Homo sapiens: one gene and its partners. The protein of the gene in region 1 purifies or fractionates together with the protein of each later gene. This does not show direct contact. Each region holds a gene or a part of one and is shown in the gene's direction. Other genes may lie near its edges.

Region 1 (7,025 bases):
TGCAGTGGCATGATCTTGGCTCACTGCAAGCTCTGCCTCCCAGGTTCACGCCATTCTTCTGCCTCAGCCTCCTAAATAGCTGAGACTACAGGCACCCGCCACCACGCCCGGCTAATTTTTTGTATTTTTAGTAGAGACAGGGTTTCGCTATGTTAGCCAGGATGGTCTCAATCTCCTGACCTCATTATCCGCCCACCTCAGCCTCCCAAAGTGCTGGGATTACAGGCGCCATCCACCATGCCTGGCCTAGCTTTCTTACATTGAATTTTTGCCAGTAAATATGTCCTCCTCCTCTCTAAATCTATCATCTGAATTATCCTTCAAGACCCATATCAAATTCTGTCCTCTTCATAAATACCTGCCGTGATTGAGCTAGCCTGAAAAGACCTCACCCTCCTCTGGACATTTTTGGCAATTATTGTGTATGCAATCCAGATGGCAATTAATAATTGGCTGCCTTGTGTCATCTGTCCTATTGTCCTAGAATATCATTTGTATCTCTTATTGTTATATAACTTTTTACTTGTTTGTCTTGTTTCACAACTCATTTTTAATCTTGAGCACAGGGAATATATATATATATATTTATTTATTTATTTTGAAACAGGTTCTGGCTCTGTCACCCAGGCTGGAGTGCAGTGGTGCAGTCTTGGTTCACTGCAACCTCCGCCTTATGGGCTCAAGCCATCCTCCATCCTCCCACCTCAGCCTCCTGGCTAGCTGGGACTATAGGCACGTGCCACCAGGCCCAGCTTTTTTTTTTCGAGATGTATTGCCCAGGCTAGAGTGCAGTGGTGTGATCTTGGCTCACTGCAACCTCCACCTCCTGGGTTCAAGCTATTCTCCTGCCTTAGCCTCCTGAGTAGCTGTGATTACAGGCATGCGCCACCACCCCTGGCTAATTTTTTTATTTTTAGTAGAGACAGGGTTTCACCATGTCGGTCAGGCTGGTCTTGAACTCCTGACCTCATGATCCGCCTGCCTCGGCCTCCCAAAGTGCTGAGATTACAGGCGTGAGCCACTGCGCCCGGCCTATGCCCGGCTAATTTTTGTAATTTTTGTAGAGATGGGGTTTTGTCATGTTGTCTGGGATGGTCTCAAACTCCTGAGGTCAAGCAGTGTGCCTGCCTTAGCCTCCCAAAGTGCTGGGATTACAGGCATGAGCCACCGTGCCCAGCAGGAAACGTATCTTAAGCCTGTCCCCTACAATGCCTTGCCCGTAGTAGATCTATACTTTGCTGTGACCCAGTGGACCTCTTGTCGTAGAGGCTGCTCAAAGGCTTGATTGGCTTTGTAGAGTTATATCATATCCAGGCTCTTAGGTCCTGCTAATTCCCTTGCGCCCCTTTTGCCTTGTTCTCTCTTCTAGGCACCTCATTGTGAACATGCTTTCTGCAACGCCTGCATCACCCAGTGGTTCTCTCAGCAACAGACATGTCCAGTGGACCGTAGTGTTGTGACGGTCGCCCATCTGCGCCCAGTACCTCGGATCATGCGGAACATGTTGTCAAAGCTGCAGATTGCCTGTGACAACGCTGTGTTCGGCTGTAGTGCCGTTGTCCGGCTTGACAACCTCATGTCTCACCTCAGCGACTGTGAGCACAACCCGAAGCGGCCTGTGACCTGTGAACAGGGCTGTGGGTGAGATTTGTTCCCTTCTGCCCCACATGGATAAGGGCCATCTCATTTATGCCCCTGTCTCTGGCTGCCCTCCTCACTAGCTGAGGAGGTCTCTTTGGCATGTTGGCAAGGAGTATTCTTAGCCTCCTTGGCTTCCTGCTCTAAGATCTTACTTTCTTGCTGCTTTTCCAACTATAATCATTTTGCTCTTGCTTTAACAAAAGAAGGGGCACAGCAATTTAGTAAATTTGTGTAATAACATTAAAGCTTGATTGACTCTATTCTTCCCTTTCAGTCCAATACTACTTTCCGTTTGTCAGGTTGACTGCTATAATTGCCAGCCTTCTCATATTTCCTCTTGCCCTATTTTTTTATTTCTGTGGGTTATGAAATATTCGACTAAATGTTGATAGCTGAAGGGCATGTTAGCTCACACCTGTAATCCTAGCACTTTGGGAGGCCGAAGTGGGCAAGTCACTTCAGGCCAGGAGTTCAAGACCAACCTGGCCAACATGGCAAAACCTTGTCTCTACTAAAAATACAAAAATTAGCCAGGTGTGGGGCCGGGCGCGGTGGCTCACGCCTGTAATCCCAGCACTTTGGGAGGCCAAGGCGGGTGGATCACGAGGTCAGGAGATTGAGACCATCCTGGCTAACACATTGAAACCCCGTCTCTACTAAAAATACAAAAAACTAGCCAGGCGTGGTGGCAGGCACCTGTAGTCCCAGCTACTTGGGAGGCTGAGGCAGGAGAACGGCATGAACCTGGGACGGGGAGCTTGCAGTGAGCAGAGATTGAGCCACTGCACTCCAGCCTGGGCAACAGAGCGAGACTCCGTCTCAAAAAAAAAAAAAAAAAATTAGCCAAGTGTGGTGGTGCTCGCCTGTAATCCCAGCTACTCAGGAGGCTGAGGCATGAGAATCACTTAAAACCAGAGGTAGAGGTTGTAGTGAGCTGAGATCGCGCCATTGCACTCCAGCCTGGGTGACAGAATGAGACTCTGTTCCCCCTAACTAAAAAATAAAAAGAATGTTGATAGCTGGGGCTGTGAATATAGGGCTTCTCTGAAGGAATAAGTGCACAGGCAGAATCTGTAGGAGGAAAAGGAGAGCTGTGCAGTAGATAAAAACAGTGTGTCAAAATAAATAAATAGGCCCCGTGCGGTGGCTCACGCCTGTAATCCCAGCACTTTGGGAGGACGAGGCGGGCGGATCACCTGAGGTCAGGAGTTCAAGACCAGCGTGGCCAACATGGTGAAACCCCATCTCTACTAAAAATATAAAAATTAGCCAGGTGTGGTGGTGGGCACCTGTAATCCCAGCTACTCGGGAGGCTGAGGCACAAGAATTACTTGAACCCATGAGGCGGAGGTTGCAGTGAGCTGAGACCGTGCCATTGCACTCCAGCCTGGGTGACAAGAGTGAAACTTGGTCTCGAAAAAAAAAAAAAAAGGCCAGGCGCGGTGGCTCACGCCTGTAATCCCAACACTTTGGAAGGCCGAGGGGGGCAGATCACGTGAGGCCAGGAGTTTGAGACCAGCCTGGCTAACATGGAGAAACCCCATTTCTACTAAAAATACAAAAAGTTAGCCGGCCATGGTGGCGCGCACCTGTAATCCCAGCTACTCGGGAGGCTGAGGCAGGAGAATCGCTTGAACCTGGGAGGCAGAGGTTGCGCTGAGCTGAGATCATGCCATCGCACTCCAGTTTGGGCAACAAGAGCGAAACTCCGTGTCAAAAAAAATAATAAAAATACAAAATAAAATAAATTTAAAAAATAGATAAAACACTGTGTCTTGATTGGGGAAAGAAATTTAAGGAAAATAGACAGCAAAGGGGCAAGTAGGAAGCTTGGACGAAGAAAGTGAAGGGAATAAACAAGAGGGAGGCCTGAAATGAATGTTAGAAATTTTGGGTAGGACAAAATCTACTTAGCAGTTATCTGCCACAGAATAGGCCATTTGCATACATGTCCCAGGGATCACCTCTGTTCTGCTCTTTCCCCACCCTGGTCTGCAGCCTGGAGATGCCCAAAGATGAGCTGCCCAACCATAACTGCATTAAGCACCTGCGCTCAGTGGTACAGCAGCAGCAGACACGCATCGCAGAGCTGGAGAAGACGTCAGCTGAACACAAACACCAGCTGGCGGAGCAGGTAGGCCCCAAGACACGGGGGAGAACATATCCCTCATATGCAGATAACTGCCTGCCTGTGGGTAATAAAAACCAGTTGTGAACACACAGACCAGTGCTTACACTTGTGAGCCTAGATGAGTGGATATTCTGCCTGTGGCTTAGCAGGGAATCAGATTGGAGCTCTCCTTGACTTTTCTTCATCCCATTCATAGCATTAATTCACCTACCAGTTATCACATGCCTCCTCTGTGAAGGCACATTTGTAAGTACTAAGGAGACAGCTGTGAGTGAGACAGTCTTATCCCTGTCTTCCTGAAGCTTACAAACTGGTTGTTCTTCAGATCTCTCAGTTGCCCTCATTCTTGGATAAACTTTTGTCTTTTTTCTGCTGTCTGCCTTAACCATTATTCCTGTTCTTCTTCCCCACAACAGAAGCGAGACATCCAGCTGCTAAAGGCATACATGCGTGCAATCCGCAGTGTCAACCCCAACCTTCAGAACCTGGAGGAGACAATTGAATACAACGAGATCCTAGAGTGAGTGTCACTCAGGACGTGGAGTGATTTCATGTCCTGACAACAAGGCCTGAAAGGAGGAAGAGCAGGAGAGTAGCAGAAGGAGGGCATTGGAGAGCTGGGCTGGGGGTCACTGCTTCTCAGATATTGGCATTAAGGACAGGGGCAGAGGAGAAGAGGATAACCCTTAGCTCCACTACAGGATGTCTTATGTGTTTGGGTGGATGGAGGGAAAGCCTGCCCAAGGATGCACTTTATCCAGAATTAGGTGAGTACCCATGTACAAAGCCCTGTATTAAAGGCTGTGGAGTGCTAGGAGGGCCAAAAAGAAATAGAAGATATCGTCCTGTCTTCAGGTAGCTTACAACCCAGAGAAGAGGAGGCAGAGTGCAAGTCCAGGAAAGTGATCTCTAAAATGCAGCAAAAACAAGCGAAGTATACAAGTGAAGTCTAAGATCTCTTTCAGTTCTGGAGTCCTATACAGTTCATAGAGTAAACTGTAAGTGTGAATCAATATATACAGGGCAAATAGTGCTGAGTGGGACATAGGATAGAGGAATAATTGTTTTATTCACTAAACATAGAGCACTAACTGTGTTAGGCGCTATATGTGCTAAGTATTGGAATTTCAAAGAAAAGTAACAGAGACAGAGTGCAGACTTGTGGAATTTAATCTGGTGAGTAACATGTGGTGACTCAGTTGGGACCAAGTGGGGAAAGATTTGGGGTTTCTGAGCCAATGATGGAAGGAAAGAAGGAAGAATAGGTAAGCTGAGTGCAGAGTGGGTAGTTATTTCTATTAGCAGAAAAAGCCAATACAGAGAAAGGAGATGAGCTGGAATGACCATCTTTAACCACCTCCACACAGGTGGGTGAACTCCCTTCAGCCAGCAAGAGTGACCCGCTGGGGAGGGATGATCTCGACTCCTGATGCTGTGCTCCAGGCTGTAATCAAGCGCTCCCTGGTGGAGAGTGGCTGTCCTGCTTCTATTGTCAACGAGCTGATTGAAAATGCCCACGAGCGTAGCTGGCCCCAGGGTCTGGCCACACTAGAGACTAGACAGATGAACCGACGCTACTATGAGAACTACGTGGCCAAGCGCATCCCTGGCAAGCAGGCTGTTGTCGTGATGGCCTGTGAGAACCAGCACATGGGGGATGACATGGTGCAAGAGCCAGGCCTTGTCATGATATTTGCGCATGGCGTGGAAGAGATATAAGAGAACTCGACTGGCTATCAGGAAGAGATGGAAATCAGAAAATCCCATCACTCCAGCAGCTGGGACCTGAGTCCTACCCACCATTCTTAATACTGTGGCTTATACCTGAGCCACACATCTCCCTGCCCTTCTGGCACTGAAGGGCCTTGGGGTAGTTTGCTCAGCCTTTCAGGTGGGAAACCCAGATTTCCTCCCTTTGCCATATTCCCCTAAAATGTCTATAAATTATCAGTCTGGGTGGGAAAGCCCCCACCTCCATCCATTTTCCTGCTTAGGGTCCCTGGTTCCAGTTATTTTCAGAAAGCACAAAGAGATTCAATTTCCCTGGAGGATCAGGACAGAGGAAGGAATCTCTAATCGTCCCTCTCCTCCAAAACCAGGGAATCAGAGCAGTCAGGCCTGTTGACTCTAAGCAGCAGACATCCTGAAGAAATGGTAAGGGTGGAGCCAAATCTCTAGAAATAAGTAGTGAGGCCGTTAATTGGCCATCACTGATGGCCCTTAGGGAAAGACTGGACCTCTGTGCCAAGCAGTATCCCTGTTCAGCCCACCTTAAAGGTGTAGGCACCCACTGGGTCTACCAGTATGCAGGTTGGGATACTGAAAATTTCCAGATGAGCTCTTCTTTCCTACAAGTTTTCATAATTAGGGAATGCCAGGGTTTAGGGTAGGGGTTAATCTGTTGGGGGTTGATGTGTTTAGCAAGAAGCTACTCCTAGCTTTTGCTAAAATATGGTTGGCACTGCCTCTTGTGGCACAGGCCATAATTGTTCCATAGACCCCTCTCTAGCCCTGTGACTGTAGTTAGTTACTTTGATAATTTTCTTTGGCCATTGTTTGTTTATATTTCACAAACTCCACCTACTGCCCCCCCCCCTCTTTTTTTTAAGAATGGCCTGATCATGGCTATCTCAGCCACATTGTTGGCAATTTAATTTATTTACTTCCTTTTTTTTTTTTTAAGAAAGGAAAAAAGAAAAAAAAATCAAACTTGAAACTTTTCTTTTGATGTTCCTATTGTGGGGGTTCTGGATAGGGTGGGACAGGGATGGGGGTGTGTTTTATATTTTTTCCTTTTCAGCACAACCTTTGGCTTTAATATAGGAAGAGCCAAGGGAGTCCTCGGCTGAACTTACGATATCTGCCCCAAACCTCTGTAACCCCAACTGAAATGAGGAGCTTCCTCTCTTCCTGTGAAGGATATGACAGTCCAGCATCGATGCCTGTGCCCTCTGGAAAAATTTCCTCCTAGCCCTTCCAGGGCCTTATCATAAAACTCTGGATTTAGAGTATTCATTTTGAAGGCAACTCCCCCTTCCCCAAGTTTCCTTGGAGCTGTATAGCTGGGTTCTAAGCTTCACCATGCAAATCAGAAATTTTATCTCTAAGTACAGGCTGTGCCGTGTCTCACCCACACCCCCCTGGGGACTTCAGTTCCATTTCAGGTTACCTGGGGTATACCTTGATCCCTAGAGTGACTGGCAGAGTAAGAGAAGGGGAGAGATAATAGGTGTGATTATTTTAATATGGAGGT
Region 2 (7,025 bases), on another chromosome or scaffold:
GTGACCAGGACCCTGCGGGTTTTGTGGCATGTCCAGGTGGGGGCTGATAGCTGTGGGAAACAAGGCTGGAAGTAGGAAGGGGCTTGGGATTTATCTGACACTTCGGGTGACCAACCGTCCTGGTTTGCCTGGGCTGAGGGGTTTCCCAGGATATGGGACTTTCAGTGCTAAAACTGGGAAAGTCCTGGACAAACTAGTATAAACTGGTCACCCTACCAGTGACAAGTGACAGTTCTTAATACACTCTTACCTTGACCTAGAGCAGTATGGATGGAGAGGGAAAGTTTAAGATAGTTAAAAGAATTATTTATTTATTATTATTATTTTTTAAATACACAAGGCATCTGGAAACCCTCTTCTTTTTTTTTTTGAGATAAGAGTCTTGCTCTGTTGCCCAGGCTGGAGTGCAGTGGCACGATCTTGGCTCACTGCAAGCTCCGCCTCCCGGGTTCACGCCATTCTCCTGCCTCAGCCTCCAGAGTAGCTGGGACTACAGGCGCCCGCCACCACGCCCAGCTAATTTTTTGTATTTTTAGTAGAGACGGGGTTTCACCGTGTTAGCCAGGATGGTCTCGATCTCCTGACCTTGTGATCTGCCCTCCTTGACCTCCCAAAGTGCTGGGATTACAGGCATGAGCCACTGCACCCGGCCTAGACTTTACTTTTTTAGAACAGTTTGAGATTTACAGAAAGGTTGAGAAGATAGCACAGAGAGCTGGAAACTGTTTTTAGCTTCATTATTCTTTGTAACACTCCCAGCTTGCAAACTGGAAAGGAATTTTCCTGTTAGGGTTTTACTTTTGCTAAATGGTAGAAAACTTCATACCTGTGGTCTCTGTCTGCTGAACTGAGTTAGTGATTTAGCTCAGGCAGATTGAAGTAGTCAAGAGGTTATTTGCTACACACCATGGGTGGTTTATTGTCCAGATTAGTGGCAAGGCTGTGACATTGACTGACAAATGTCCACCACCAAGCGGAAGCCTGAGTGATGGAATCGTTTGATTGCTACTGAAACATCATCTTTACCAGGGACTGCAAGTCTGCGGCTGGTAGAAATTGGTCGTTTTTGTATTGTGGCCTTCATTCTGGTCCACTTTGTGTGGGGGTCAAGATTTTTGGTTCCAGTGACAGAAACCCAGCTAGAATTGCCTTAAGCCTCAAATGGATTGAATAGCTCATGTCACTGAATGGTCTGTCCCCGCTAAACCATGGCTGAATCCAGGTGTTTGGAGCCGTCAGAAATCGGCCTTTTTCCACCTTTCAGCTCTACCTTTTTCCTGTTGGTGTCATTTTCAGGCAGGCTGCAGGCTTACATCATATCAGCTTAGCATTCCTGAGGAAAAAGAGAGCTTCTTTTCTCAATATTGCCAGCAGAAGTCCAGAATTGAGATTGAGTATCCCTGGACCAGCAAGGTCTCATGCCACCCCTGAACTGTCACTCTGGCCAAAGGTATAGGGGGATCTGATTGGCCATTCCTCACTCATATTCCCTTCCCTGGAGCAAGAGTGGGATTAGCTCCACTCAAGCTAGTGGAAAAGAATGAGAGAAAAGAGTGGTTCCCCATGGGAGAATCAGGGGTTATTGCCCAAAGAAGGCGGAGAATGGATCCATGGCAGGTAGACAGACGCACACCTACTCTTGGTGCTTTCAAGTTTTGGCTAAGGTGGCACTGACAGTGTTAGAGCTTGGGGTACAATATTGCCATGTTGATTTTCTTAAAATATCGTCTTCACCATGCCACATATTATGGGTCCTAGGCTCCCACTATGTCACGTCTAAGTTCTTCCAGGCCTTCCCACCATCTAGTTTGGGAGCACAGGGAGTTAGGAACATCCTTGTTAGGCAGACGCTGTTTAAATGGAGACCAACGGGGTGAGTCGTTGTTACCAGGCAGCGGGGTGTCAGGTGGAAGGAAGGATGTTTCAGGCAGAGGAAAAGGCATTTGAGAAAGCCTAGTGGGGCAAGGGGAGCAGTGCACATTGGCAGAACTCACGTGGTTCAGCAGGGGAGTGTTCACTGGGTGAAGAGGAAGTGAGGACCCAAGCTCAGAGCCATGCTTGGCAGTCTCCAGAGGCCAGGTCCCCTGGGGCCCTGTAAATCACTTTAAGGAATTCAGACTATGAGTGAGAACAGTAGGGAGCCACTGAAGGTTTTTTAACTACAGAAAGGCTGTGGTCTGGCTGAAGCTGGCAGAATGGATTGGATGAGGGGCAGACTGGAGGTGGGCCTCCACATGTGTTGGTGGGGCGGGGAGCAGGGGCTCTGCTGCCGTCCCCTGGTGAGTTACGGTAGCAGCTGCTGTCATCCAGGTGTATCTCCTGTTGGTGGTCCACTCACACACATACCTCGCCTGCCCACTTGAGGTCCCCTGCTCTTTTCCTCCTGCCCATCCAAATCCCTAGCTCTATCCCGAAAATGCCAGTTCTTCCCTAAAAATTGCCCTGGTGACTTCAGCCAACAAGAGTTTTGCTGTCTTCTCTAACTTCTTCTGTGCCTGTTCACACTGTCCCACACAGTTAACACATTATTATATACTTCTCATCGCCAAAGAGTGGGTCGGCTGTTAGCTCCTGTGCGTTCTTAAAGTTTCATCTCGGCCTTGAGTTAGACCCTCAGGAAGCTGGCCGGGGTTCCTGTCCTTTGGCTATCAGACATTGTCTTCCTTTGTTACATATCTTTTTTGTTGTTTTCTCCCAATTTGAACATAAGAATCATGAAAGCCTGTATGGCTTGTTCAGCTGGGTACTGGTATGCCAGCACAGGACGTGGCAGATAGTAAGCAATCAACAAATATTTGTCACAGGATGAACGAGAGGCAGACCTCTGTTTTCAGAAAAGGCCAGTCTTTTCCCAACAACTGCTTGTTCTCCCCAGTTTAGTCACAGCACCTGTGCCACAGCCATGACTTTCTCTAGGGCTAAAGCCCTAAAGAAAGCTAGGGTATAGCCCTGCCTATACCCTACACATCCCCGGCCCAGCCTCACTTGCCGGCCCTGTTTGACATCTTTGGGGGATGATTCACCAGGGGAAGCACAGCCTGTGAACACCTTCTCTAATCCTCTAGCCTGATTCCACCCTCCGTGAAGCTTCTCCTTGTCCTGCTGGCCAGAAGGCTGAACACTGACCAGATGGTGGTTTTCAGGGCACAGAGTGGGACACACTGGGGAACGTCTGCAGGGCCTCTGCCCGAGTGCTGAACAGGCCAGACAGATACAGGCTCTGTGTCTCCCATCCCTCTACCACACCTGAGACATTGTTATTTGGAGCTGTGTGGACATTGGGGGGTAAATTTCTAACCCCCAGACCTCCTATCATTCTGCTTATCCTTTCTCATGCCCCACCTTGCAAATGTACATTTCAAAATCTTGAAGGAGGAGCATCCTAATAAGCTCATTATGGTGCAAGGCATAGCACGTGCAGAAAATGCTGTCACTGAAATGAACTTGGACCTAGTATTCCTGTCTCTGAAATGGACTGAATTGCTAATTTTTGAAGGATATGGGGCATTATTAACTGTAGTGGTTTAACCTGTGAAATTAGTGACTCTTGAGAAAGCAGAGGCTATTGAGGCCAGATTTGTTTACGTCTGTCATCCTTGGTGATGCACCTCGAGTGTGTTGGTTACAGTTTCTCTTCTCCAGGCATTTCAAACTCTGAAGCTCATCTGTCGGTGGAGAGTTAGCTAACAGGCAAAGCTCGGATATTGAGACTGCATCTGCAGAGCTCCTGCTGGGGATATGAGAATACTGGCTCTTTTCCAGACAAATGGGAGTTAGAGCCTTTTATAAGGACTTTCCATAAGATCTGATAGTATTTTCATGCCTTTTTGGTTTATCTATTTGGTGTTTTTTTAATTTATTTTTTGTGTGTTAGGCATTCATAACCTCATGTAAATTCTTGGCCAATAAAATTGTTGCTTACTTCATTGTTTGCATTTCTGTAGTCCTAGAAGGGTTGTAATCATGGGGTCTGGAGTTCAGTCTGCCTGGTTGTAACCTAGGCACCTCCTGTGCTGCACCAGGGCCCTGGGCAGATGCCTCAGCTCCCAGAGCATCATCCCCAAAGGGTCGATTGTTTCTGGGATTAAACGAAGCACTCAGACAGAGACTGGCAGTAATAGGAAGCTTCATCTGTTTTACTGAGGTACATACATAGTTTGAGAAAACACGTTGTCATTCTAACAGTGGTTATCATTGTAAGAGAAACATTTTAATTTGCTGCCGTTAAGTAGCAAGGTAATTATTCTGTCCTTTGAAACTTTTCTGAGATAAAGACACAGCTTTCCATACAAAGATGGTCATAGCAACATTGTTATCACTCACACAATTAGGAATCTTAATGCCCTTCAAAAGAGTTGCTACTGTGCTTGTCCTTTCAGTGTCATACTGTGTAGCCATTACAGATATTTGCAAACAGTTGTCAATAACCAAAAAAAGTGCTTTTGTTTTAGCTGAGGTGGGAAATAAGATTGGCACTGAAATGGATAATGCAACATGACCTCAACTATGTAAATATCCATAGCAAAGAAAAAGACCCGAGGAAATAGATTGCAACTCCAGCAGCAGTCATCTCTAGGCACCACGGTTGCCGTTTCTCTTTCATTGTTGTCAAAGTTTCCTACTTCTCTAAAGTGAATGTTACATTTATAATCAGAAGGTTTTATTAAAATGGGCCGGGTGAGTTGGCTCACACCTGTAATCCCAGCACTTTGGGAAGCCGAGGCAGGCAGATCAGTTGAGGTCTGGAGTTCAAGACCAGCCTGGCCAACATGGCTAAACCCCATCTCTACTAAAAGTACAAAAATTAGCTGGGCATGGTGGCCTGCGCCTATAAACTCAGCTACCTGGGAATCTGAGGTAGGAGAATCGCCTGAACCTAAGAGGCGGAGGCCGCAGTGAGCCAAGATCACGCCACTGCACTCCAGCCTGATGACAGAGCAAGACTCCATCTCAGAAAATGACAACAACAACAAAAAGTTATTAAAATGTTTATATCTCTGAGGTGGTTGAATTACCTAATCTTCCAAAGCCCTGGAATTAGATACACCATTAAAACATTAAATCTTAATCCATTCAGCCTTTCCCCCCATTACATTCAAGCAAATGTATATTGAGCATCTCTTCCTAAAACACTGTGTAAAACGGTGTGCCAGGGCATTGTGGGACAGAAAGACGAGCAAGGTGAAGGTGTAACCCTCATTGAGCTTTGGAGCTTGCAGTCTACTGAGTATTTCTGTATACCAGCAAAAGACATTTAGAAAATGAATATTTGAAACAATATCATTTACAATAGCATAAAAAAATGTCGACTACCTAGCAGCAACTCTAACAATAGATCTGCAAGATTCCTGTCAAGTGAGCATGGAAACAAATGCTGTAAATATCAGAATGTTACACTATTGTAAATATGTCAGTTCTCTCCAAATTTAGCCATAGATGTAGGGCAAGTCTAAGAAAATTTTAGCACGTATTTTTGTGGAAATGAAGAAGGTGATTTTTGAATGTATATGGAGATTAAAAGGGCCAAGAATAGGCAATATTGAAAAACAGAAGGAAAGAAGTTGGAAGACTTAATTACTATATGGCAAGATTTACTGTAAAACTGCAGTAATCAGACAGTATGGTCTTGATACAAGGATAGACAAATAGATCAATGAAACTGGAGTATCCAGAATGAGACCCACATGGGTAGTCACCTGATTAATGACAATGGTGGCGCTGGAGTGCAGTAGAGAAGTGAGGGCCTTTTCTGTAAATGGTGCTGGGTCAAGTAGATTTCCATATAGAAAAACTTAATTTTGGCCAGTACCTCATATCCTACACAGAAATCAGTTCCAGATGTACTCAAAGTCAGAATGCGAAGAGTAAAACAGTAACTTTGTTAGAAGTAAAAAGCATTTCCTTATAACCTTGGGGTAGGTAAGAACCTCTTAAGCTTGATACAAGAAACACCATCCAAGGGAAAGATTAATAAATTGAACTACATTAAAATTAAGAACCTCTACTCATCTAAAGACCCAGTATAAAGGGAACGAAAAGGTAAGCCACCATCAGAGAAAGTATTTGCAATATTTATCTCCAGTAAAGGGTTTGTGGTCAGAGTATATAAAGAAAAGCAAGAAAAAGCCACACAGCCTAATTTTAAAAATGGGCAGGCTAGGCGCGGTGGCTCACGCCTGTAATCCAAACACTTTGGGAGGCTGAGGTACGTGGATCACGAGGTCAGGAGATCGAGACCATCCTGGCTAATACAGTGAAACCCCATGTCTACTAAAAATACAAAACAATTAGCCGAGCGTGCTGGCGGGCGCCTGTAGTCCCAGCTATTCGGAAGGCTGAGGCAGGGAAATGGCGTGAACCCAGGAGGCAGAGCTTGCAGTGAGTGGAGATCGCACCACTGCACTCCAGCCTGGGCGACAGAGCAAGACTCCGTCTCAAAAAAAAAAAAATGGGCAAAAGACTTGCACAGGCACCTCACAAAAGAAGATATTCAAACAGTCCATAAACATATATGAACAGGCACCCGGTTTCACTACTGGAAGAAAGCCCCCACGCAATATCACTGCATACCCAGCAGATGGCGCCACCGACCAGGGCAAAGAACACCAAGTATTGAGAGGCCAAGAAACAAATGGAGTTCTCAGACCTTTCTTCCTGGCCACAGGTCTGTGGGCGAGCTACTGAACGTCGCCAAACCTCACTTGCTGTCTTGTCCTGTGCAGTGGCAACAGTGTGCACATCTTCAGGTTACTGTGAGTCTGTAGGTCACATGAAGCCCTCGCAGAGAACCAGGCACGTGGGGGCTCCTAGAATCTTTTTTTCAGGACTTACCGCCCTGCCCTCTCTGCCTATAAGGGCCTTCTGGTAGTTACTAGGTCTTTTTCCCCCAGAAATTATTTAATAAGGGCAACAATAACAATAGCTAGCACTTGTATCATACATAGTAACTGCCAAGTTAGTTATCTGTTATCTCCCAACACCACCAAAATAGGTAGATACTAAAGTATTCAGGTACCATTGCTGTT
Region 3 (7,025 bases), on another chromosome or scaffold:
CTTCTAACTGAGACGTTTACCCTCTTGTCTCCCTTCAGTCTGCGGGCCAGGCATCGACATCCGCAACGACTATCAGCAGCTGAAGCGCCTGGAGAACTGCACGGTGATCGAGGGCTACCTCCACATCCTGCTCATCTCCAAGGCCGAGGACTACCGCAGCTACCGCTTCCCCAAGCTCACGGTCATTACCGAGTACTTGCTGCTGTTCCGAGTGGCTGGCCTCGAGAGCCTCGGAGACCTCTTCCCCAACCTCACGGTCATCCGCGGCTGGAAACTCTTCTACAACTACGCCCTGGTCATCTTCGAGATGACCAATCTCAAGGATATTGGGCTTTACAACCTGAGGAACATTACTCGGGGGGCCATCAGGATTGAGAAAAATGCTGACCTCTGTTACCTCTCCACTGTGGACTGGTCCCTGATCCTGGATGCGGTGTCCAATAACTACATTGTGGGGAATAAGCCCCCAAAGGAATGTGGGGACCTGTGTCCAGGGACCATGGAGGAGAAGCCGATGTGTGAGAAGACCACCATCAACAATGAGTACAACTACCGCTGCTGGACCACAAACCGCTGCCAGAAAAGTAAGAATGATGCTGACTGCTGCTTTCTCTCTGCCTCTCTCTCTCCTCTCCTCCTCCTTGACCTCCCTTCTCTTCTGAGTGCACGAGTTCCGCTGGGCAGGGTGCAGTCGTGTTGCATTTAGGACGTGGCATGCCTGCTGTGCGGAAGTGGTTCCCAGTGGGGGTCTTGGTTGGCTTTCCTTTGCATCTGGGACTCTTGGATTGCGGGACTGTGGCGTGGCTGGAGGCCATCATGGCTGCTGTCAAGACTGTTCAAATCACATGTTAGAAATAATCCAGCACACTCCTGGGCTAGACACTTGCTGACCTTCAGCTTTGAATTCCTGATGAGAAAGGTGACCTGGTGTGCTTGGAAGTCCCTGAGCCTTGGCAGCTGGGGGCTGCTTATGTGTCAGCTCTTTCATCCTTTGTGCGAAGTGATATTTTTTGTTCTGCAGGACTTCCTTAGTTTGAATGGACTTGGAATATGGTTAAATAAAGGGAAGGTAAAGCACTAACTCATATCCTGTGAAAGTGGTCCTTAGGTCCTAGTGATGATGTTATGATACTCAGGTGTCCTGGTTATGACAGAGCACCTGGCCCAGGTGGGAGACCTCTGGACCCATTTCTGCAAGTCCCAGGTTCAGGCTGTACTTGCAGGTAGCTGTGTAGCAGGGTGCATTTTTAAACCTCTGGGATTCTGTTTTCGTTCTTTTATACCTGTTTACTGAACAGTTGTGAAAATCTTAAGATTTCACGAGTGAAGGAACTTTGGAAAGTATTTACTGTTCTGGGGGTCAGATGGTGGTATTTTGAAGCTTCTTGTATATTTATCTGCAATATGCTTATTTTCCCTTGAGAATAACTGAGCTCTTGCCTTCATGTGATCAGTTCCTTAAGAACCAGGCTGTTTGGTATTAAAATGTGACTCTGAGCCTTCACCTTATTGCATTCAGCAATAGTTATGTATATTGGCTAGGAAGCTTTTCCTCACTGGTTTGAAGTCAGTGTGTTAGCTATAAATAGCTATTATTTAAGTGTTGGCCCAGTTAAAGATGTAAGGAACCCATGTTCTCTAGTTATGAAGAACCAAGAAACCCCAAATTGTTAGACTTGCCTAAAATAAATAAAAGGCGAGACCCCACAGGGGTGAAGTGTGTAAAGTAAATAAAGGACAGACCTCCCAGGTAGCCCTTCAGTTCCCGTTCAACCAGTCCTGAGGCAGGAAAAGGATCTGTGTACCCTGATCTGCCACGCACTTTTCTATTCTGCAGAATTGGATCAGTGCGTATGTGAACATTGATTAGTGAGGGCAGGGGTCCCACTGGCTGCAGCCAGTACCTTGTAGAGCTCTGAGAATGCAGTCAGGCCACTTTAAGGTTGGCTGGAGTTGGAGGGAGATCTTATGCTAAAGTCACTTGTGTGGTTGATTAAAACTGCCCTATCATTAAGTTACCCACTGGTTTGAGAAAACAACAAAATATATTTTTTAAATAACCTTGACATTTAAAAATTTTATCTGAAAAGTAAAAGGTGTTATCAAGGGAGGCAGCATGGAGTAGAAAAGAGATGTTGAATGTGGTGATGAGGGCCAGGAATGACCTTGGATGGGCCAGCCCTTCTGGGCTGTAGTTGGGCTTTTTTAGGATATTTCTAGGGCAGTCCAGTACATCCCTTAGTGGTGATCATATATGGGCATGAGGATGTTTTGAAAACTCATAAGCTCTTTAGAGAAGGGAGGTGCCATATGAAACGTCATTAAGTGGAGAGTTGTTCACGAACTAGGTAGGTAGTTACTTTGGTCTTGCCATAGGTTTTTGGCTGTTTCTGATGAGCTACTGATTGAAGACCCCTGGGGTAGGGGTGAGGCCTGCATTCTGGGTCCAAGTCTAAGAGTGGCGACTAGAAATGAGCAAGTTATTTAAATTGCCTGGGCCTTGGTTTCTTCATATGTGGAATGGGGTAAAGCCTGCCTTCCTCATAGGGCTGTTGGAAGATGAAAAGGAGGAAGGAAAAGCACCGTGAAAATGTTAACGATGGTTAGAAGGTGGGCTCTGCTGGTGACAGACAGAGCCTTGATATCACCTGTTGGTTGGTCACCTGCTTCCCCAAGGCCACGCCCTGCAGCCTTCTCCTTGACCATCCCAGCCCTGCTGATGTTCCTTGTGATTTCACAATGGAGTACTTATATAAAATTGGTAACTGCTTTCCGGGAAATTGACTTCCCTTCCCCTTGTCCTGAAAACTCAGGCATGGGCATATTTCTTGGAGATTTTCTAGTTGAATCAGAACTTCCTCTTGGTTTGCGTAGATTCCATTTAGACCTGCATTGTCCAGTGTGGTAGCCGCTTATTGAGTAAGCCACGTGGCTTATTGAGTACTTGAACTGTGGCTTGTCCGAATTGGGACTGCTTTAGGTGTAAAATATACACTAGATTTCCAAGACATAGTATAGCAAAAACTCTGTACACCATTTCATTAATAATTACTATGTTGATAACATGTTGAAATATAACATTTTGGATATATTAGATTAAGTAAAATGTGTTCTTAAATTTCACCTGCCTGTTTCCTTTTTATTCTTTTTTTTTTTTTTTGAGGCGGAGTTTCGCTCTCATCACCCAGGCTGGAGTGCAGCGGCGCGATCTCGGCTCACTGCAACCTCCGTCTCCTGGGTTCAAGCGATTCTCTTGCCTCAGCCTCCCAAGTAGCTGGAATTACAAGCATGTGCCACCATGCCCGTCTAATTTTTGTATTTTAACTGGAGACGGGGTTTCACCACCATGTTGGCCAGGCTGGTCTCAAACTCCTGACCTCAGATGATCCGCCCGCCTCAGCCTCCCAAAGTGTTAGGATTACAGGTGTGAGCCACCATGCCCGACTCTTTTTAATTCTTAATGTGGCTACTTGAAAATTTAAAATTACAGATGTGGCTTGCATTCTGTGTTGGTAAGCTGCTTTAGAGCATTTCTTTTAACACCAGGAGTTCTTCCCCTCATCATCTTTTTGGCTGAGTCGTCACTGCAGCGCTCATAGCCCCGCATGTACCTCTCCAGCCAGAACCCTTAGGAATCATTTGGGGAGCTCCATGAAGGGCATTGAGTCCAGGCAGAATGGCTACCTTGAGTTCAACATAAGCATTAAGATGGCCATTCGAAAACATTAAGCACAGAAGAATCCCATTCAGGTAATCTTCTGTTGGCTGGCTGTAGAACTACGGAGAACATCTGGAGAAACACGTCAAGGGTGTGTGTGAAATCGTTGAGCCTACTCGATTTTGTCGTGCTGTTGCGCGGTTTTCACTTGGCACTGTCCTTTAAACTCCTTCTGTGCCGTGACTCTGCAGTGTCTGGCAGCGTAGTAGACTCTACTCCCTCTATGGACGTGATCCCTCTGTGGGTTCTCTGCACACTTCTGTATTTCTCGGTTCTTTTTGGATTTAGGAGTGGATTTTATACATTTTTGAGTCATTCCTAAAGAGCGATTGACCCTTAAAGAACTGTGTACAGTGGTTTCCTTTCAGTAAGAACATAGTTGTGTGGCACCCCCTGACATGTGGTGTGGTTGATTCTTCTTCCTTGTCTTCCAACGCCACCCTCTTATGAGTCTCTTCCTACCCCCACAGGTGCCGCTTCTCTGTCTCCCTTCCCTCAGTCTGGCTTTTAACGGTGGTCTCCTGACATAGTCCATTCAGGCTGCTGTAACAAAATCCCATACCCTGAGTGGCTTACACACAACAGAAATACTGCTCACAGTTCTGGAGGCTGGAAGTCCAAGTTCAAGGTGCTTACCAGATTAACTGTCTGGGGAGGGCCCACACTCTGGTTCACAGAAGCACCTTTTCACTGTCTTCACATGTTGGAAGGGGCGAGGGATTTTTTTTCTGGCGTCTTTTTTATAAGGGCACTAATCCCATTTGTGAGGGCTCCACCCTCATGGCCTAATCACCTCCCAGAGCCATCATACTGGGGATTAGGTTTCAACATAAGAATTTTGAGGGGACATAAACATTCAGATCATAGCATGGCTGGAGTTCTGTCCTGGGCTCTCTTTTCACTTTCCTTGTTCTCATCTCATCCACTGGTAACTGCATTGCCTCCTGTCTCCACCTAAACTTCCAAGTATCTCCAGCCCAGAACCCTTTTGAGTCCAGGACCTGTCATTCATATCCATCCCAGAACCCTTTTGAACCCAGGACTTGTCATTCATATCAGACCACCACGAGCATTTCACTACAGCCTCTGATGGTCTTCCCTGTTTCCTCACTTTTGCCTATTTTTTTTCTTTTCTATTCCCTCTTAAGTGGGCCACACTTTTGTTCCCCTGGTTCTTATGTCAGGAATGTGGGTGTCCTTTGGACACTTCCTTCTCCAGTTGGATACCAGGCCCTTTCCCTCCCGAATGGAATGGAAATGCTGCTTCAGCTGTGTTCCTCTGCTCCTCCCCCTTACAGCAGTGACATAGCCTCTCTCCTGCTATTGTGTCCTGTGGCTCCACCGAGCACTGGGGAGCTTTTCAGTATGCACTTTTTTTTTTTTTGGAGAAAGAGTCTTACTCTGTCACCCAGGCTGGAGTGCAGTGGTGCGATCTTGGCTCATTGCAACCTCCGGGCTCCCAGGTTCAAGTGATTCTACTGCCTCAGCCTCCTGAGTAGCTGGGATTACAGGCCCGCACCACCACACCCAGCTAATTTTTGTATTTTTAGTAGAGACGGGGTTTCACCATGTTAACCAGGCTGGTCTCGAACTCCCGACCTCAGGCGATCCACCGGTCTTGGCCTCCCAATGTGCTGGGATTACAGGCATGAGCCACTGCGCCCGGCCATCTAGTGTGCACTTTGGACTGATGAGCTCCCCTACCTGAAATCCTGTAGCAAGTCCCTATAGGATAGGCATGTGGTACAGTGTGAAGCTCCTGAGTGGTCAACAGCTACCCCGTGACAACATGCCACACTCCATGTGCCACTCCCTCCCGCCTGCCTGCTGTGTCCTTGGCCCCAGTGGTGCTCTCCCGTGCTGACCAGCCGGCACGGCTCACCTGGCCGAACTCTAGCCTTGCCTTTTCCTCTCAAGGATGTAAAGGCTCTGCAGATTTCGGGAGGCCTGTCTCCCAGCACCTGATGGGACACTTTTTGCCCCACTGTAAATTCTGGGTGTATCCTCCACTGTATGCTGTCACCCCAAGGGCAAGCACTGCATCTGCTTAGTGAAGGATTTATTGTTCGGAAGATACATTTTCCCCTTGAGCAGAGAGTAGCGTATCCTGGCAGTCTTCGGTGAGCCAGTTGTACCAGGATTATGAAATGCAGATGTTTACTGTGTCATTGTTGCTGTCATTGCTACTGAGGAGTACTGACCAGAATCATCTGCAACTCTTAGTTGGCAGAGAGGACCACTATGGCGGGTAGCTCTTTTCTTTCCTGCCATTGTGGGGATGATTCCAGGCCAAAGATGATGGAGAAGTATGGAAATCATCTGAAAGGTTGAAGCTTGGCACGTGAAGCCATTCATGACTTTGTAAGGCAGTTTTGCTGAAGGCCAGTTCTGCCCTGGGAGGGACGGAGGTGAATCCTCCTGAGTACCTGTGGTTTTCTTACTTCCTGCTGAATTTACCTAAGTGCCTGTTGTTTGCTTGCTGTGGAGGCTTTCTGGTATTTCATTTCAGGTGCAGATGCCTTCACTTTCCCACAAAAAAAACCCCAACAAAACCTAAGACCTTACTGCAACTAAGTCTCCAAGTACTTTTTAACCCATTGGGATGAACAGCCTGTGGTCTGCTCAGATCACCCTGAGTGCGTGTGAGAAGGCCTGGGCTTTGCCAGGAAATCCAGGAAGGCAGGGCCGGGCTGTGTTGGAAGCTGGCTTAGCTGGTGGGGCAGCCTTATTTCAATTAAAAGGGCATTGACTGGGAGCAGCAGTCCTGGAGTTTGTTGCATTTCCTATTGCCCTCAAAATGAGAAACCAGGAAAATAGCAGATTGGAGCCTTCGAGAAGGCAGTAAATGGCTGTTTTTATTGACAAAAGGAAAACATTTTACTGCCATCTCACTGATGGCATCTCACTGACTTAAAATGAAGGCAGGTTGTAGTAAAAAAAAAAAAGTCTACATTTTTCCACCGCCACGTTCTTATATCCTTGTTTGTCAGCCACTGCTCACAAGGGCAGTGTTGTCTTGCGGAGTAGAGGCGCTCTCCTTCCCTCGTTTTCCTCTATAGGTTGGTGTGGCTGACCTGCTAGATCAAAGTGGAGGACCTGTTTAAGAATGTGTAAATTGAAGGCTGGGCGCAGTGGCTAACACCTGTAATCCTAGCATTTGGGGAGGCTGAGGCAGGAGGATCGCTTGAGTCCAGGAGCTCAAGACTGGCCTGGGCAACATGGTGAGACCTTGTTCATATAAAAAAATTTAAATAATTAGCTGGTTGTGGAGGCACGTGCCTATAGTCCCAGCACTTTGGGAGGCTGA
Region 4 (6,960 bases), on another chromosome or scaffold:
CCCCTATTTAATGAGGTTTCCCGACCGATTCCTCTAATTTTCCCATAGCCAGTTGCTTGTTTTTTAATCTGTATAATGAAAAAACAAAACAAAACAACTTTAGTTTAAAAGGAAAAAACACACCTCCTCTTGGAAGCTTTCCAGGAGTGAGTCTCCATTCAGTTTTCATCACGTTGGTCAATTTAGCAGCTTGAATGGGAGAAATGAAACCGTTTTTCTACTTGGGTAATCAGCATCTTCACTTCCTATGTTATATAATTCTTACAAGGTAATGCTTCAGTCTCTTTTGAGTAGCGCTTTCTGCAGCACACACTGTGTGTCTGTGCTGGGCACTTCGCAGCCCAATAGGGTACCACAACAGGCCCTGGAATTGGGCAGCTCTGGGTTCAAGTCAATCCCAGCCCTGCCACATCCAAGCTGTGTGACCTTGGTCACACATTCCAGCTACCCAGTGTTATGTAACAAATGACCCCAAAACTTAGTGGCCGAAAACAACAATACTTATTTTGCAGTTTGGGCAGGGTTGGTGAGACAGCTCATTTCTGCTCCACTTGTCCACTGGGGCAGCTCCAAGTCTGGGGGCTGAATCATCTGCAGGCTCACTCTCTCACATGTCTGGTGGTTAGTGGGGACCAGAGCTGGAGTTGTTGGCTAGATCACCTTCATGCGGTCTCCCCATGAGGCCTGGGCTTCCTCCTATCATGGTGGGTGAGTGGCCAGAGAGACAGAGAGAGAGAAAGAGAGAGAGAAGCAAGCTGGGTGGAATCCATGTTGCTTTTTATGACCTAACCTTGGAAGTCACAGATGAACACTTCTGCCATACTCTGTTGGTTGAGACAGTCACAAGATCTGCTGAGATTCAAGGTGGGGGCACACAGTGCCCCCACACACGTGCCGCACACATGTGCCGCTCAATTGGAGGAGCATCAGTGTCACATTGTAAGAAGAGCAATTGGGATGAGATATACCCTTTGGAAAATATTAATCAGTCACAAGAAGTATCTTCACCTTTTGGAGATCCTTTACTGAAATGTGGAGCACAGAGCCCGGCACACAGGAAGAGGCCACGCATCACACAGCTGCAGGATGTGCCGGCGCAAGGACGGTCACCCCGTCTACAATGTAGCCAGTTCTGGACTCTCAACAAGTCTTATCTCCTTTGTGGTATCCCTGGTCTGAACTGACCCTGAGTCCACAGCCCCTACGTCAGCCCCACCTAGTCCCTCCCCACCAGAGCCCTGTTGTTCTCAAGGCTTCCCTGGGTCTACAATGTAGATTCTTGACTCCCCAAATCCAAAGCACCTCAGAGCAGGTGGGACCCACAGGCCCCTCCCTGGCCAGCCATGAGTGTTGGGCCCAGAGAGGATAGGTGGTAGAGCCAGGACTCAGATCCCTGCCCTAGAAGAGAGATGCAGGCCACTCTAATCTCAGGACCACTGATGTGACCAAGGGTGTGTCAGGAGTGGCTGAGCCAGCCTGGTCTGCTATGTCCCTGCATTCACACCACCCAACACCTCCAAACCTATGTTCTGCACAGGGGCAGAAACTGAAGCACAGAGAGAGGACACACTTTCCAAGAGCTTCACAGCATCTTTCTGTGCCAGACTAGATGCAGCCTACTAGAGCCAGGGGCATCTGAGCTGGATGGACCCTGTCATCTGTTACATTAGACCAGAGCAGGTGGGGACTCTGAGGCCCGGAATGTGGGAAGGCCTGCCCTGGGTCACTAGCCTGCGGCTCCCACATCCTTCTCCAGCACTCCTGCCCACATGCCATGCCACCCTGTTTGTGCTGAGTCTTTTGTGGTCCCCCCCAACACACACTGTGTGCTCCATGAGTTCAGGCACTGACATGCCCACCACTGCGTCCCTCAGTGTACCTGGCGCCTGTGCAAACAGGGTTTGTGGACAGTCAGTGGGCCGTGAGGGGAGCTGGTGTCTTGCTAGGAGGGGGTGGGGATGCCCCTGCGGAAGTGTTTGCCAAGAGCCTGCTGAGTGCCTGCTCCTCACTTGGCCGTATGGAGGGCACCTAGCGTTGGGGTGGAGGAGCACTCACTCACCTGGATCCAGATGAAGTCATGCCTCTGGAGAGAGGGGATGCCCCAGGAGTGTATTCACAGCGTGTGGGGGAGGTGGGACAGAGACAAAGAAGTGGACCTGGTGCCTGCTGTGTCACAGGCAGGTGCAGAGGTGAAGGAAGGGAATTGGGGGAGGAAGAAGAAGGAGAAAATGGGCAGGAGGAAGAAGAGGGGAAAGAGGAGGAAAAGGAAGACTTGGAAAAGGAGGGGGGAAAGGAAGGGGAAAGATGGGAGAAGAAGGAGGAAGAAAGAGCAGGGGATAAATGGGAGGGGGAGGAGAGAACAGGAGGAGAAAGAGGTTGTAAAGGGGCAAAAACAGCCCTGCCCTTCTGGTGGCAAGGGGTGTGGGGCACCCTAAGGACGAGGGTACATCTGTGGGGCAAAGCACTCAATCCAGCTCTGCCCTGCGGTGGCTCAGGGATGGGGGCGTAGCGGCCAGGCGGTGTGGGGGCTGGGGAAGGTGTGAGAGACATGGGAAAATCAACACGGCCAGGAGCCAAGGAGACGCCCAGACGCCCGGGAGGAAAGAAAACACGCCCATCAGAGCTCAAGTCCTCCTGCACTGCTCCTGGTGGGGACGTGTGGGGTCAGGGCAACCGTCCCAGCCCATGCCAGCCCCCACGGGGGCCAAAACCGCCTTCCAAAGCATCCGCTAGGCTGACATCTCGTAATAGGTCCCCTCCATTTTATTTTTGTTTTTATTTATTTGTTTATTTTTTTGAGATGGAGTCTAGCTCTGCCACCCAGACTGGAGTGCAGTGGCGCGACCTCGGCTCACTGCAACCTCCGCCTCCCGGGTTCAAGCGATTCTCCTGCCTCAGCCTCCCGAGTAGCTGGGATTACAGGCACGCGCTACCACGCCCGGCTAATTTGTGTATTTTTAGTAGAGACGGGGTTTCATCATGTTGGTCAGGCTGGTCTCGAACTCCTGACCTCGTGATCCACCCGCCTCGGCCTCCCAAAGTGCTGGGATTACAGGCATGAGCCACCGCGCCTAGCTACGGGTCGCTTCCATTTTAGCCGTACAGAGCCTGAAACCCGGGTCGGGGGCGCATGGGGAGAAATATCCGCCGGTCAAGGTGCGCGAGCCAGGCATGCACACAGGGCTTCACGGTCCCTATGCCAGGAGAGGGAAGCCGAGGCAGGGGGAGCCCGAGCGCGCCCGGGAGGTGTGAGCTTTGGGTCCCATCGGCGCCGCCTAGACCGTGAGCTTGGCGCGTGCACCCCAGGCTTCAGTTTACGCATCTGTGCGATGGGATCGCGGCTCCGGCGATGCCGGCTAAGGGGGCGGAGTTCGCGCACGCTCGGCACGGGGCGAGGGGCGAGGCGCTGGGCGTGCATGGATGCGGGTTCCTGCGAACTGAGGTCCGCCCGGCCTCGGCCCGGGAGTCCCGGCTCCCGCCGCTCTCGCAGGCCCTGCCCGGACGCCGGGCGCAGGGGCGCCTCCGCCGGGTGCCTTCCCCGAGCGGGCAGGGGAGGAGGCGGCGGAGCGGAGGAGGAGGGAGCCCGGGCCGCGGCTGCCCGCGCCAGCCTGACCCTCGAAGGGGTCGCTGTTGCCTCGCAGATCCCTCCCTCGCTCCCTGCCTGCGTCCCTCCCTGCCGCTCCCGCCGCGTCCGCCTTTTGTTCGCGGAACCGCGCGCCCCCGAGCCGAGGCGGCGGGGCGGGGAGCTGGCGGGGCTGCGCGGGGGGCGGGCTGCGCCGGGCGGAGCCGGGGCCCGGGCCGCAGCCGGACTCGGAGCCCGAGGGAGCGATCGGCGTGCGGGCGGCGGGGGCCCGGGCGCGCTCCGGGGGCGCGGCGAGGCCGAGGGGGCGGGCGCCGGGCGGAGCCGCAGCCGGAGCCGGGGCGCCTGGAGGCGGTCGGGCCGCACTCTCCGAGCCCAGAGCAGCGGAGAGACCGCGCGGCGGGGCTTGGGACGGGGACGCGGTGTCGGGGCCGAGGTGGGCCGAGAGCAGCCGCAGCCCCAGCGGCCGGAGCCGCGCCGGGTCCCTCCCCAGGGACGTCGAGGCCGGGCGGGCCTGGGCCATGCGCGCAGCTCGCTGAGGCCGAGGGAGGCCGCGATGGAGGCGCCGGCGGCCGAGCCCCCGGTCCGGGGCTGCGGTCCCCAGCCCGCGCCTGCACCCGCGCCTGCCCCGGAGAGGAAAAAGAGCCACCGCGCGCCGTCGCCGGCCCGGCCCAAAGACGTGGCCGGCTGGTCGCTGGCTAAGGGCCGCCGCGGCCCAGGCCCGGGCTCAGCAGTCGCCTGCAGCGCCGCGTTCTCCTCACGGCCGGACAAGAAGGGGCGCGCAGTGGCTCCCGGGGCGCGCGGTGCGGGTGTGCGGGTGGCCGGGGTCCGCACCGGGGTCCGTGCCAAGGGCCGTCCGCGCTCGGGTGCGGGGCCGCGACCGCCACCGCCGCCCCCCAGCCTCACGGATAGCAGCTCGGAGGTGTCGGACTGCGCGTCGGAGGAGGCGCGCCTGCTGGGCCTGGAGCTGGCGCTGAGCAGCGACGCCGAGTCCGCGGCCGGGGGCCCGGCGGGGGTCCGTACGGGGCAGCCGGCCCAGCCCGCGCCCTCCGCGCAGCAGCCCCCGCGGCCGCCCGCCTCCCCGGACGAGCCGTCGGTGGCCGCGTCGTCGGTGGGCAGCAGCCGCTTGCCGCTCAGCGCCTCGCTTGCCTTCTCCGACCTCACCGAGGAGATGCTGGACTGCGGGCCCAGCGGCTTGGTGCGGGAGCTGGAGGAGCTGCGCTCGGAGAACGACTATCTCAAGGTGGGGGCGCCCGGGTAGAAAGGGAGGTCGCAGGGGTCGCCGGCTGTCACAGTCCCGCGGGCCTGAGGCACCAGCCGGCCCTCCTTCCCACTGAACAATCCGGAGAAAGGGGCCCAAGCCCTCTGGGGACCACTCTGAGGTGGATCTGGGGCTCCCTCATTCCCCCCGCCCCCTCTCAACTTTATTTGGGAAGCGCGCTCCTGAAAAAGACCTTGGAACTGGCTACAGGGCCCTAACCTGGGAGCGGGGACTTGAGAAAGCTTTGGAGCGTTCTGGGAGGCGTTGCTGAGGTGGGGGTGGGTAGCCAGGGAAGGGATGGATCTCTGCCTTCAGCTGCCCAGAACCTCCACGCCCAGGCTCTCCTTCTTGGGACGGGATTGATAGACACCGCCGCCAGGGAAACCTGTGGCCATCCCCTGCCCAGGAAAGGCCTGAATGCCATCCTGAGTCGTTACCCAGGGCTTTCCCGGGCGCAGGCCTGTCTCTGCCTGCCTTTCTGGGCGGGTCCAGTTTGAAAGCATGACATCTGGGAACATCCCCTTGGCTGGAGTCCACTTCCGCCCAGCCTAACGGTCCCACAGCCTGGAGGATGATGTCGTGGGAGAACCGGTTCAGAGGCAGCTTCCTAAATCCCAGGACAGTGTCTTTTGCCCTCCCTGGGGCAGACCTTGTGCACACAACAGCCCCATTGGCCCCTCGTGGCCAGTGCCTTTCCATGTTCGCAGTGAGAGGAGGGCAACTGCCCACCTGGAACAGGACTTCCCTGTGGCCATGTGGGGACCCTAGGGCTTCCCCCGGACAGCAGGCTTTGCCTTTGCTTTTTCAGTGGACATGAGCACCTACTGGGTGCCAGCCGGGCTCCATCTGCACGCTTCCAGGTGCCATGGCAGCTTTAGGGACAGCCCAGCTTGCACGTGTTGACCTCTCCCTGGGAGGCTGGAAGCTTCCTGAGCTCTCCTGCCGCTGGCTGGGCACGGTTTTGGAGGAGGCTGAAATGTTGCCGACTCTTGTCAGTGGATGATGGCCTGGCACAACACCCAGAGTGCCCCTGGCTGTGGAGCTCACAGCATGCTGCTGGTTTATGTCTGCCCTCAGCACTTAGGTTTTAACTTTTCCTTGTGGCTCTTCTGACCAAATGGGCTTCTCCCTCATTAGAGTGTTGGTGTCTTGCTCAACTATGTCTCTGTCTCCCCATTTTCCCCGGGATCTGCTCTCCAGCCTGAGTTCTGTAAATGCTTGTAGTATGGAAGGACAAGGTCTGTCTGAATCAAGAGACACCTTTCCCCAAGCCAGGCCTCAGTCTCCTCATCCGTTAAATGGGAGGATGTCTTCCCAAGGGCCGGGTTCGGTGTTGGCAACTGGGAGTTCAGTCGGCTCTTTGAGTCTTCAGAAGCCGGTGGTAAGGAGAGGGCAAGTGGAAGGTGAGGAGGAGGAGGGAGGTGACGAGCCAGGACAAGGGTCTTTTGCTCCTGCCCTCTTGGTGCTCTGAGCTGCTTCCAGTGAGTGCTGCCTGAATTGGCCTTAACCGAAACTCTGAGTTCCTCACCCCTGCCTCCCGGTTCCTGCTACTCACTCTGGTGAAGGGGGATGGGTTGCAGAGCTTTGCTTCAGGGCTCCTAGGCACCCATCTCCATGGGCCCCTGTCCATCCCAGGAAGTCATCAGGCTCTGACCCAAAGTCTGTTTGAGGCACCCATGACTGTTTAAAGGGGAAAACAGTCCCAGGAGGCTGGGGGTTGAGCCCGGGATCTCACAGGGGCCGGGGTCCAGCTGGGGACATCCCACGTTTGGGCCAAGATGGAACCGTAATTTCCACCATTCATTCAGTGGCTCAGGCTTCGTGCTGCTATTGGATCTGGGGTCTGTCGCTTCCTGACGGCGTGATCTTTGGCAAGTTACTTAAAGGCCCTGGACCTTTGCTTTCTCATTTGTAAAAATGGGACAGTAACACGCTTTCCAACCTCAACGGTTAAATGAGCTGATTCCTGCAAACACCATTAGAGCACCTGGTATGTAGTAAACCTCTGATCACTGCTCTTGTCAGAGGCACGGGACATGTTTCCATGTGCACCCAGCCTGTTCTCTTGTGGATTCTGTGAGGGCAGAATAGATCCTCTTCATCACCCAAGGCAGGCTGG

What was found.
Region 2: the proteins of RNF41 (region 1) and CLEC16A purify together in Homo sapiens (affinity purification with mass spectrometry; 3 studies listed by BioGRID and IntAct, with this or other methods). This does not show direct contact.
Region 3: the proteins of RNF41 (region 1) and IGF1R purify together in Homo sapiens (affinity purification with mass spectrometry; 2 studies listed by BioGRID and IntAct, with this or other methods). This does not show direct contact.
Region 4: the proteins of RNF41 (region 1) and MTCL2 purify together in Homo sapiens (affinity purification with mass spectrometry; 3 studies listed by BioGRID and IntAct, with this or other methods). This does not show direct contact.

The regions. Positions count from the first base shown.
Region 1 is NC_000012.12:56,204,913-56,211,937, reverse strand, and holds part of RNF41 (E3 ubiquitin-protein ligase NRDP1), read left to right. Parts: intron 1-1,369; coding exon 1,370-1,641; intron 1,642-3,639; coding exon 3,640-3,775; intron 3,776-4,188; coding exon 4,189-4,292; intron 4,293-4,627; coding exon of another isoform or gene 4,628-4,631; exon of another isoform or gene 4,632-4,770; intron 4,771-5,139; coding exon 5,140-5,491; 3' UTR 5,492-7,025. UniProt on the Homo sapiens protein: Acts as E3 ubiquitin-protein ligase and regulates the degradation of target proteins. Polyubiquitinates MYD88. Negatively regulates MYD88-dependent production of pro-inflammatory cytokines.
Region 2 is NC_000016.10:10,947,541-10,954,565, forward strand, and holds part of CLEC16A (protein CLEC16A), read left to right. Parts: intron 1-7,025. UniProt on the Homo sapiens protein: Regulator of mitophagy through the upstream regulation of the RNF41/NRDP1-PRKN pathway. Mitophagy is a selective form of autophagy necessary for mitochondrial quality control.
Region 3 is NC_000015.10:98,707,524-98,714,548, forward strand, and holds part of IGF1R (insulin-like growth factor 1 receptor isoform 1 precursor), read left to right. Parts: intron 1-38; coding exon 39-584; intron 585-7,025. UniProt on the Homo sapiens protein: Receptor tyrosine kinase which mediates actions of insulin-like growth factor 1 (IGF1). Binds IGF1 with high affinity and IGF2 and insulin (INS) with a lower affinity. The activated IGF1R is involved in cell growth and survival control.
Region 4 is NC_000020.11:36,860,521-36,867,480, reverse strand, and holds the start of MTCL2 (microtubule cross-linking factor 2), read left to right. Parts: upstream 1-3,942; 5' UTR 3,943-4,136; coding exon 4,137-4,823; intron 4,824-6,960. UniProt on the Homo sapiens protein: Microtubule-associated factor that enables integration of the centrosomal and Golgi-associated microtubules on the Golgi membrane, supporting directional migration. Preferentially acts on the perinuclear microtubules accumulated around the Golgi.